Homo sapiens: one gene and its partners. The protein of the gene in region 3 purifies or fractionates together with the protein of the main gene of each other region. This does not show direct contact. Each region holds a gene or a part of one and is shown on either strand. Other genes may lie near its edges. The genes, in order: NRP1, FUT8 and PLVAP.

Evidence for each region.
Region 1: the proteins of PLVAP (region 3) and NRP1 purify together in Homo sapiens (affinity purification with western blotting; one study listed by BioGRID). This does not show direct contact.
Region 2: the proteins of PLVAP (region 3) and FUT8 purify together in Homo sapiens (affinity purification with mass spectrometry; 3 studies listed by BioGRID and IntAct, with this or other methods). This does not show direct contact.

Annotation. Positions count from the first base shown.
Region 1 is NC_000010.11:33,177,622-33,181,271, reverse strand, and holds part of NRP1 (neuropilin-1 isoform a precursor), read left to right. Parts: intron 1-906; coding exon 907-1,196; 3' UTR 1,197-3,650. UniProt on the Homo sapiens protein: Cell-surface receptor involved in the development of the cardiovascular system, in angiogenesis, in the formation of certain neuronal circuits and in organogenesis outside the nervous system. Mediates the chemorepulsant activity of semaphorins.
Region 2 is NC_000014.9:65,716,701-65,720,350, reverse strand, and holds part of FUT8 (alpha-(1,6)-fucosyltransferase), read right to left. Parts: intron 1-3,650. UniProt on the Homo sapiens protein: Catalyzes the addition of fucose in alpha 1-6 linkage to the first GlcNAc residue, next to the peptide chains in N-glycans.
Region 3 is NC_000019.10:17,356,772-17,360,421, forward strand, and holds part of PLVAP (plasmalemma vesicle-associated protein), read right to left. Parts: intron 1-3,650. UniProt on the Homo sapiens protein: Endothelial cell-specific membrane protein involved in the formation of the diaphragms that bridge endothelial fenestrae. It is also required for the formation of stomata of caveolae and transendothelial channels.

The DNA of each region.
Region 1 (3,650 bases), on a different chromosome or scaffold from region 3:
TTGCATCTCATATTTTTAGTTTTCTTTGATTGGAATCTTTGTTGATCAGAACACCATTAAGTAAACCCCAGGCATATTGTGCGTTAACATTTTCATCCCGTTTCTAGTACCAGGTAATTAGGCTCAAAGCTCCCATGTTAACAATTTCTCCTGTTCCACTCCAAAGAAAACAAGTCCCCAGTGACTGAGCTGCAGAGCAGTGCAACTGTCTCCAGTTAAACTACCAGGGCTGCAAAGATGCTGATTATTAGTAAATGTCTTCTATTTGGCATGACAGACATGGTTTCTCGATTTGAGCCACACTCTGTTTACATGTCAGCAGCAAGCATTCTCTTGTTCTAAAAAATCACTCCTTCTTTACTGAAACTACTGTAGACTTTGGGCAAAATTCGTTTCACTTGAAGATTTTCCATATGGGAGAACAAACACATGCATAAACCATGCCAGATCCTGGAAACAGCACCACGTAGAAGGGCAGCCATGAAGGTTTTTCTTGTGCCTGTTTTGGGGTTAGGTACATGCACTGGGAATGGTAAAATCCCCTTGCTAGACTAATGTGTGACTAAGCATTTTGCAAAACTTAATGATCACCTATCTAGCCAAGGACTGTAAACACAGATTACAATCTAGGACAGATGGGGCTGCATGAAATCTGAGTTAGATGAGCAAGGAACCTCCCAGTTGATCCAGAATGGGTTGTTTCCACGTGCTAAGCAGTCTGTCAGAAGCCCCAGCGCCCACTCCCCTCTACCACCTCCCACACTTCTGTTCCCAACAATGAGTCAGATATGACAGGCAAAACTGGGGTGTGTGATTTGCTCCTGTTTCGTTCCTTTCTATTTTTCTGTCTGCTTTCATCTGGTCTGTTGGCGGTGCTCACGGAGACAATATTGTTTTTTTCCATAGGGAGCACGCCAGGATACGAAGGTGAAGGAGAAGGTGACAAGAACATCTCCAGGAAGCCAGGCAATGTGTTGAAGACCTTAGACCCCATCCTCATCACCATCATAGCCATGAGTGCCCTGGGGGTCCTCCTGGGGGCTGTCTGTGGGGTCGTGCTGTACTGTGCCTGTTGGCATAATGGGATGTCAGAAAGAAACTTGTCTGCCCTGGAGAACTATAACTTTGAACTTGTGGATGGTGTGAAGTTGAAAAAAGACAAACTGAATACACAGAGTACTTATTCGGAGGCATGAAGGCAGACAGAGATGAAAAGACAGTCAAAGGACGGAAGTGGAAGGACGGGAGTGAGCTGGGGAGCTGTTGATCTTTCACTATACAGGCTGGGAAGTGTGTTGATGACCACTGAGCCAGGCTTTTCTCAGGAGCTTCAATGAGTATGGCCGACAGACATGGACAAGGAGCTGTGTTCACCATCGGACTCATGTGCAGTCAGCTTTTTTCCTGTTGGTTTCATTTGAATAATCAGATGCTGGTGTTGAGACCAAGTATGATTGACATAATCATTCATTTCGACCCCTCCTGCCCCTCTCTCTCTCTCTCCTCTCCCCTTTGTGGATTCTTTTTGGAAACTGAGCGAAATCCAAGATGCTGGCACCAAGCGTATTCCGTGTGGCCCTTTGGATGGACATGCTACCTGAAACCCAGTGCCCAGAATATACTAGAATCACCGCATTTCAGTGGACTCCTGAAGTTGTACTTGTGTATAATTGCCCGCGTCGTGCATAGGCAAAGAAGGATTAGGCTGTTTTCTTTTTAAAGTACTGTAGCCTCAGTACTGGTGTAGTGTGTCAGCTCTGTTTACGAAGCAATACTGTCCAGTTTTCTTGCTGTTTTTCCGGTGTTGTACTAAACCTCGTGCTTGTGAACTCCATACAGAAAACGGTGCCATCCCTGAACACGGCTGGCCACTGGGTATACTGCTGACAACCGCAACAACAAAAACACAAATCCTTGGCACTGGCTAGTCTATGTCCTCTCAAGTGCCTTTTTGTTTGTACTGGTTCATTGTGTTACATTAACGACCCACTCTGCTTCTTGCTGGTGAAAGCCCTGCTCTTTAATCAAACTCTGGTGGCCCACTGACTAAGAAGAAAGTTTATTTTCGTGTGAGATGCCAGCCCCTCCGGGCAGGCAAGGGCTCTGAAGATTTGGCAACGTGGCTTAATTGTTCTGCTTTTTCTGTAGTTCAATTTCATGTTTCTTGACCCTTTTGTATAAAGCTACAATATTCTCTCTTATTGTTCTTTCATATGGAATGTATTTTCAAATGTAAACTCTCTTCTCTTTCTCTCTCCTATCTCTCTGTCTTTTTTCTCTCTTAGAATTGGAGGATTTGCCATTGTCCAGGAAAGAAACTTGCAGCTTTAACCTGCTGGGAATGGCAAACGATTTTACTAGACTTTATGTTTAAAAATAAATAAATAAGGGAAATTCCTAACTTTGCCCTCCAAAGTCTAACTTTGGTTTTCTTGTTAACTGGTTAAAGTGACAGTATCTTTTTTCCTTATCTATTCTATTCAAAATGACCTTTGATAGAAATGTTGGCATTTAGTAGAAATAGTGATAAGTTGAGGAAAGAAATAATACAAATTGGCTTTCAAGTGAGACCCAAAGGAAGAACTGGATAAAATCTTCCAAATCCAAAAGCATGAGATTTTTCTATCCAAATATGCAAAAATGACCCAAGAGAACTTTCTTATTTTGCTACTGAGTCACACAAGGGAAGTGGAAGGAAGAACAGTTAATTTAAGAATGAAACTATAAATCCTGATGCCTGGGGGTCAAGTATTTTAAGATAAGAGGGGGAAAAACACATAAAGTCAAACAAATGTTTTAAAAATTCATAACAGCAACCTTGAAAAAATAGACTTAAATGAATGCTTCTAGAAACTTCCAGCGGCTCACAAAGAATAAGCCTGCCTTAGGGCTGGCAACATCTAAGCCTCTAACAGCACAGGGAAGCAAATATCTTACCAGGCAGCCTATGAATTAACCCAAAGAAGCTTTGGTTGGTTTTGGTGGATTTTTATCATGCCATGTTGGACATGAGATTTTTTAGATCTTCCTTCCCACATTGCTAGACGTCTCACTCAAAGACATTTGTTGGGAGTCACATTTGCATCATAGACGAGACAGTCCATTCATCTTAGTTAAATTGGATTGAGAATGCCTTTTGTTTCCAGGAAAATATTGATCACCATGAAAGAAGAATAGTTTTTTGTCCCCAGAGACATTCATTTAGTTGATATAATCCTACCAGAAGGAAAGCACTAAGAAACACTCGTTTGTTGTTTTTAAAGGCAACAGACTTAAAGTTGTCCTCAGCCAAGGAAAAATGATACTGCAACTTTAAAATTTAAAGTATCTTGCACTGATAAATATATTTAAAAATTATATGTTTATAAAGTTATTAATTTGTAAAGGCAGTGTTACAAAATGTTCAGTTTATATTGTTTTAGATTGTTTTGTAATTTTTAAAGGTGTAAAATAACATATTTTTTCTTTATGGAAATCTATAAAACTTTCTGTAGTAAAATGTTTTCATTTTACTGGTATATTATTGCTTCATGTTTTGTACCATCATAAGATTTTGTGCAGATTTTTTTTACAGAAATTATTATTTTCTATGACAATATGACACTTGTAAATTGTTGTTTCAAAATGAACAGCGAAGCCTTAACTTTAAA
Region 2 (3,650 bases), on a different chromosome or scaffold from region 3:
CAAGTCCCAGGCCTGGCAACATTCACCACAAGCTGACTGAAGAGCCCTTGGGCCTTAAGTGAACATGAACCGTAGCCTGGCAATAATCCCTGTGGGCTTGTAGTGGTGGTGGCCATAGGGAGAGACTCTTTTGCCTATGAAAAGAGGAGTGAAAAGTGGGAAGCACTTTGCCTTATGGTTTGGATGCCAGCTCAGCTGCAGGAGAATAGAGGACCAGATAGGGTTCTAAGGTTTCCAACTCCAGATGCTGGCTCCCAGATGGCATCTCTGGACCTGCCTGGGGCCCAGGGGAACTTGCTTGCTGTCCTGAAGGGATGGATAAAAGCCTGACTGGCTTTGCCACCTGCTCATTATAGAGCCCTAGAACTTTGAGCCAACACAGGAGGTAGCCAGGTAGGGGTTACACTGGGCCTTGGGTGAGATCCAGTGCTATGCTGGTTTCAGGTCTGGTCTAGTGTAGTTCCAGTGGTGGTAGCCACAAAAGTGCTTGTGTCACCACTCCCCCAACTACAAGAGGCTTGGAGCACAGAATCAGAGACTCGTTTGTTTGGGACAAAGTAAGGGAAGAGAACAAGAGTCTCTGCTTGGTAATCCAGAGAATTCTTCTAGACCTTATCTAAGACCACAAAGGTAGTACCTCTGCAAGTCTGTAAGAACCACAGCATTATCGGGCTTGGGGTGCCCCCTAATGTAGATATGGCTGCAATGACCAAAACTGGATCACAACAGCCAACTCCCTTCAAATATCTGGAAAGCCTTTCTAAGACAGGTACAAAAGAGTTCAGATTGTGAAGACTACGATAAATACCTTCAATGCCCAGACACCAATGAACACCCACAAGCATCAAGACCATCCAGGAAAACATGGCCTTGAAAAACAAACTAAATAAGGCACCAGGGACCAAATCCTGAAGAAACATAGATATGTGACCTTTCAGAGAGGGAATTCAAAAGAGCTATTTTGAGGAAATGCAAAGAAGTTCAAGATAACACAAAGAAGGAATTCAGAATCCTATCAGATAAAGTTAACAAAGAGGTTGAAACAATTAAAAGGAATCAAGCAGAAATTCTGGGGTTGAAAAATGCAGCTGACATACTGAGTCTCTTAATAGAAGTCATCAAGCAGAAGAAAGAATTGGTAAGCTTAAAGACAGGCTATTTGAAAATACACTGTCAACAGAGACAAAAGAAAAAAGAATGAAAAACAATGAAGCATGCCTATAAGATCTAAATAATAGTTTCAAAAGGGCAAATCTAACAGTTATTGGCCTTAAGAAGGAGGCAGAGAGAGATAGGAACAGAACGTTTATTCAAAGGGATGAAACAGAGAACATCCGAATTCTAGACAAAGATATCAATATTCAAGTACAAGAAAGTTATACATCAACCAGATTTAACCCAAAGAAGACTACCATTCAAGGCATTTAATAACCAAACTTCCAAAGGTCAAGGATAAAGAAAGGATCCTAAAAGCAGCAAAAGAAAAAATAAATAACATACCATGGAGCTCCAATATGTCTGACAGCAGACTTTTCAGTGGAAACATTACAGGCCAAAAGAGAGTGGTATGACATAAACTACTGAGGGAAAAAAAACTTTTACCCTAGAATAGTATATCCAGTGAAAACATCCTTCAAGCTTAAAGAAGAAATAAAGACTTTCCCAGACAAACAAAAGCTGAGAGATTTCATCAACATCAGACCTGTTCTACAAGAAATGCTAAGGGGAATCCTTCAATTTGAAGGAAAAAAGGTGTTAATGGGCAATTAAAAAATGATCTGAAGGTACCTCACTGGTCATACTAAGCATACAAAAAACCACATAATTTTATAACACTGTAATTGTGGTATGTAACCTATTGATATCTTAAGTAAAAGACTAAAAGATGAACCGATCAAAAATAACTACAACTTTTCAAGACATACTTGGTACCATAAGATATAAATAGAAATAACAGAAAGTTAAAAAGTTGGGGGGACAAAGTACAGAGTATTTATTAGACTTCTTTTTGATTGCATGTTTGTTTATGCAATCGGTGCCAAATTGTCATCAGTTTAAAATAACGAGCTATAAGTTATTTGCAAGCCTCATGATAATCTCAAATCAAAAAACATACAATGAATACACAAAAAATAAAAAGCAAGAAATTAAAACAAACCACCAGAGAAAATCACCTTCACTAAAAGGAAAATAGAAAGGAAGGAAAGAAGGAAGAGAAGACCACAAAATAACCAGAAAACAAATAACAAAATGGCAGGAGTAAGATCTTACTTATTATTAATAACACTAAATGTAAACAAACTGAATTCTCCAATCAAAAGACATAGAGTGGCTGAATAGCTAAGAAACACAAAATTCAATGATCTGTTACCTACAAGAAACATACTTCACCTATAAAGACACACAGACTAAAAATAAAGGGATGGAAAAAGATATTTCATGCCAATGAAAACCAAAAAAGAGCAGGAGTAGCTATACCTGTAATAGACAAAATAGATTTCAAGAAAAAAAAACTATAAAAAGGGACAAAGAAGGAGGTGAGGAGCGCCTCTGCCTGGCCGCCCCGTCTGGGAACTGAGGAGTGCCTCTGCCAGGCCGCCCCGTCTGAGAGGTGAGGAGCGCCTCTGCCTGGCAGCTGCCCCGTCTGGGAAGTGAGGAGCATCTCTGCCCAGCCGCCCCGTCTGGGAAATGGGGAGCGCCTCTGCCCGGCTGCCCCGTCTGGGAAGTGGGGAGCGCCTCTGCCCGGCCGCCCCGTCTGGGAGGTGAGGAGCGTCTCTGCCCGGCCGCCCATCGTCTGGGATGTGAGGAGCGCCTCTGCCCGGCCGCCCTTCGTCTGGGAGGTGAGGAGCGCCTCTGCCCGGCCGCCCCGTCTAGGAAGTGAGGAGCGCCTCTGCCCAGCTGCCCTGTCTGGGATGTGAGGAGCCACCTCTGCCCAGCTGCCCCATCTGGGAGGTGAGGAGAGTCTCTGCCTGGCCGCCCCGTCTGGGAAGTGAGGAGCGTCTCTGCCCGGCTGCCCTGTCTGGGAGGTGAGGAGTGCCTCTGCCCGGCCGCCCATCGTCTGGGAAGTGAGGAGCGCCTCTGCCCGGCCGCCCCGTCTGGGAGGTGAGGAGCGCCTCTGCCCGGCCGCCCCGTCTGGGAGGTGAGGAGCGCCTCTGCCCGGCCGCCCCGTCTGGGAGGTGAGAAGCGCCTCTGCCCGGCCGCCCCATCTGGGAAATGAGGAGCGCCTCTGCCCGGCTGCCCGTCGTCTGGGAAGTGGGGAACGCCTCTGCCCGGCCGCCCCATCTGGGAAGTGGGGAGCACCTCTGCCCGGCCACCCCGTCTGGGAAGTGTGGAGCGCCTCTGCCCGGCCACCCCGTCTGGGAAGTGTGGAGCACCTCTGCCCGGCCGCCCCGTCTGGGAAGTGGGGAGTGCCTCTGCCCGGCCGCCCCATCTGGGAAGTGGGGAGCGCCTCTGCCCGGCCGCCCCGTCTGGGAGGTGAGGAGCGCCTCTGCCCGGCCGCCCCGTCTGGGAAGTGAGGAGCGCCTCTGCCCGGCCGCCCCGTCTGGGAAGTGAGGAGTGCCTCTGCCTGGCTGCCCCATCTGGGAGGTGTACCCAACAGCTCCAAAGAGACAGCGACCATCGAGAACAGGCCATGATGATGATGGTGGTTT
Region 3 (3,650 bases):
CAACATGGTGAAACCCCGTCTCTACTAAAAAAACAAAATTAGCCGGGCGTGATGGCGCATGCCTGTAATCCCAGCTGCTTGGGAGGCTGAGGCAGGAGAATCACTTGAACCCAGGAGGTGGAGGTTGCGGTGAGCTGAGATCGGGCCATTGCACTCCAGCCTGGGCAACGAGAGAGAAACTCCGTCTCAAAAACAAAAAAACAAAAGAAGAAGAAGTAAGAGTGGAGGCCGGAGGGGGTGGCTTATACCTCTAATCCCAGCACTTTGGGAGGCCAAGGAGGGCGGATCACTTGAGGCCAGGAGTTTGAGACCAGCATGGCCAACATGGTGAAACCCCAAAATTTTTACAAATTTTGTAGAAAAAGATACAAAAATTAGCCAGGTGTGGTGGTACACTCCTGTAATCCCAGCTACTCAGGAGGCTGAGGCAGGACAATTGCTTAACCCAGGAGACGGAGGTTGCAGTGAGCTGTGATTGCGCCACTGCACTCCTGCCTAGGAGACAGAGTGAGAGTCCATCTCAAAAAAAAGAAAAAGGAGTGGAAAAGGAAAAATCAACTCTCCCGATGCATGAGGTGGGTGATTTAATGCTGAGTCTTGTCCCAGCACCTCATTAGGTGCATCTAAAATTCTAGTGACTCAGCTACTTGGGAGGCCGAGGCAGGAAGATCACTTGAGGCCAGGAGTTCAAATCCAGCCTGGGCAACATAGCAAGACCCCTGTCTCTACAAAAAAATAACAATTTAGCTAGGCATGGTGGAGTGTACCTGTAGGCTCAACCACTGGGGAGGCTGAGGCAGGAAGATTGTTTGAGCCCAGGAGTTCGAGGCTGCAGTGAGCTATGATCGTGCCACTGCACTCCAGCCTGGGTGACAGAGCAAGACCCTGTCTCGAAAAAAATAATGATTAAAAAAATAAAATTCCAGTGACTCTCCCCAAGTTGCCCAGTTAACCCAGAGCAGACAGCCCCAGCCCACTTGCCCCCGGCCTCTCTCAGGGGAAGGCGAGTCAAGGGCAGAAGCCAGCAGGCCAGAAGCCCTTCCTGCGACCGTGAGGAGAGAAGCAGGCAAGGTCCAGGCTTAAGTACACATTGTTTTCTCGGCAGGTGGACGTCATTTCGGGGTAAACAATGTCAAGAGCTTCCCTGGTTCTCAGCCGAGGCCCTGACAGTCCTGGGCTGGGAGCCCGGGCCTGGCCCTGATTCTCCACTGTGTGACCCCAGGCTGCTCACTTCCCTGGGGCCTCAGTTTCCTCCTCTGAGAAGTGGGGATAATAATAGAACCTCCTTCCTTGCCATGAGGGCTTTCGGCCAAGATGGAGAGAGGAAAATTGTGTTTGCTTGGAGCGGGGAATCTCCTCCTCACCTTTTTGTTTCCCTCCCTGTGGGCTGCTCAGGGCTGAGAACTTTCTCCCAGACAGAGCCATCTAGAGCAAAGGGGTTGAGAGACAGCTTGGCGAGGGAGTGAGCTCCCTGTTGGAGAGGGTATGCAAGAAGGAAAAAAAAAAAAAAGAAGAAGAGGTGGAAATGGAGCTGGACATGATGCATCCTGGGGAGTTGGCGGCAAAGCTTTCGGAAATCTACTTGGCCAGAAATCCCATATTAGCCCTCTGAGGCTGCAACAGACCCAGAATGACAATAGCTCCGTGGCAAAATGGTCATAGGCACAGTGGTTGGGGTCAAAGGGATCTGACTTAAAGTTCTGGTGCCTTCCTGAGCCTCGGGTCCTAAACTGCAAACAGCAATGCCAGGCCCTGACTCCTCCGTCAGTGGTGTAGCAGGACCCCAGAGAGAGCACAGGCTATTCTTGGGGCGGTGGCCTGAGTCACCATCCCTGTGACGCACAGGCCACCCTCTGAGAAGTGACTGACTCTGGGAGGAGGCAGGGGGCACAGGCAGCAAGCCATGACCTGAGCGTGTGCCAGGAGCCCTTGCTGCTTCCTACAGAGGCCCCTAGTCCCTTGCTCCGGTCATTTTTGGATGGCACCTTGCAATTAGCAAAGCATTTCCAGGCCCTTGACTTCAGAGACTATCTTTTTTTTTTTTCCAAGACAGGATCTCACTCTGTCTCCCAGGCTGGAGTGCAGGGATGCGATCTTGGCTCTCTGCAGCCTCCACCTCCTGGACTCGGGCGATCTTCCCACCTCAGGCTCCTGAGTAGCTCGGACTACAGGTGCGCACCACCACACCTGGGTAATTTTTGTATTTTTTGTACAGAGGGGGTTTTGCTATGTTGCCCAGACTGGTCTTGAACTCCTGGGCTCAAGCAATCCTCTCACCTCGGCCTCCCAAAGTGCTGGGATTACAGGTGTGAGCCACAGTGCCTAGCTGAGACTCTTTTTTATTTATTATTTTTATTTTTATTTTTTGTTGCCCAGGCTGGAGTGTAGTGGCTCAATCTTGGCTCACTGCAACCTCCACCTCCCGGGTTCAAGTGATTCTCCTGCCTCAGCCTCCGGAGTAGCTGGGATTACAGGTGCCCACCACCACACCCGGCTAATTTTTGTATTTTTTTTTTTTTTTTAGTAGAGACAGGGTTTCACCATGTTGGCCAAGCTAGTTTTGAACTCCTGAGCTCAAGTGATCCGCCCGCTTCAGCCTCCCAAAGTGCTGGGATTACAGGCGTGAGCCACTGCAACCAGCCTCTCTTTTTTTGAGACAGAGTCTTGCTCTGTTCCCAGGCTGGAGTGCAATGGTGTCATCTCGGCTCACTGCAACCTCTGCCTCCCGGGTTCAAGTGATTCTCCTGCCTCAGTCTCCCAAGCAGCTGGGACTACAGGCGCATACCACCACGCCCAGCTACTTTTTGTATTTTTAGTAGAGATGGGGTTTCACCATGTTGGCCAGATGGTCTTGATCTCTTGACCTCATGATCCGCCCACCTCGGCCTGGGATTACAGGCGTAAGCCACCGTACCCGGCCTCTTTTTTTTTTTTTTTTTCTGACACAGTCTCACTCTGTCGTCCAGGCTGGAGTGCAGTGGCATGATCTCGGCTCACTGCAACCTCCGCCTCCCAGGTTCAAGCAATTCTCCTGCCTCAGCCTCCTGAGTAGCTGGGATTCCAAGCATGAGCCACTGTGCCCAGCTGAGACTCATTTTCTAGAAAGTAAAGGTCAGGATTCATTCCTGGATGCCACTCCCCCTTCTCTCCCTCTGCTCATTACCTTCCCTCACCCCCGTCCAGCCTCCAGGCCTTTGGCCTGGCTGTTCCTGCTGCCTAGAACACTGTTCCCCCTGCTTTCCCTGAGGCCAGCTCCTCATGCTCCAGCTCTTCCTCACCAAGGCTCTCTCTTGCCTGTTTGGGGTCCGATGGCCTGGGTTCATGTCCCAGCTCTGCTGTGCTCCCTGGGGTACAGGGCATGCCCTCTCTGTGCCTCACTCTCCTCATCTGGAAAGTGGGTAGAATAGTGGTTTGCCCTACTATTATTGTTAAGTTGTGAAGATTACATGAATTAATCTTGCAAAGTACTTAGAACTGCGTGGGGCTCCCAGTAGGTGCCTAATAATTGTAGGCTCTTTGGTAGTCCCATCATGACACTGTCTAACCCACTACTCAGGGAGTTTCATGAGGACAGGACTGGGTGTGTCTTGGATACTGCTGTGTCCCTCACGCCCAACCATACATGACCTAGTATACAGCAGGTGCTCAAT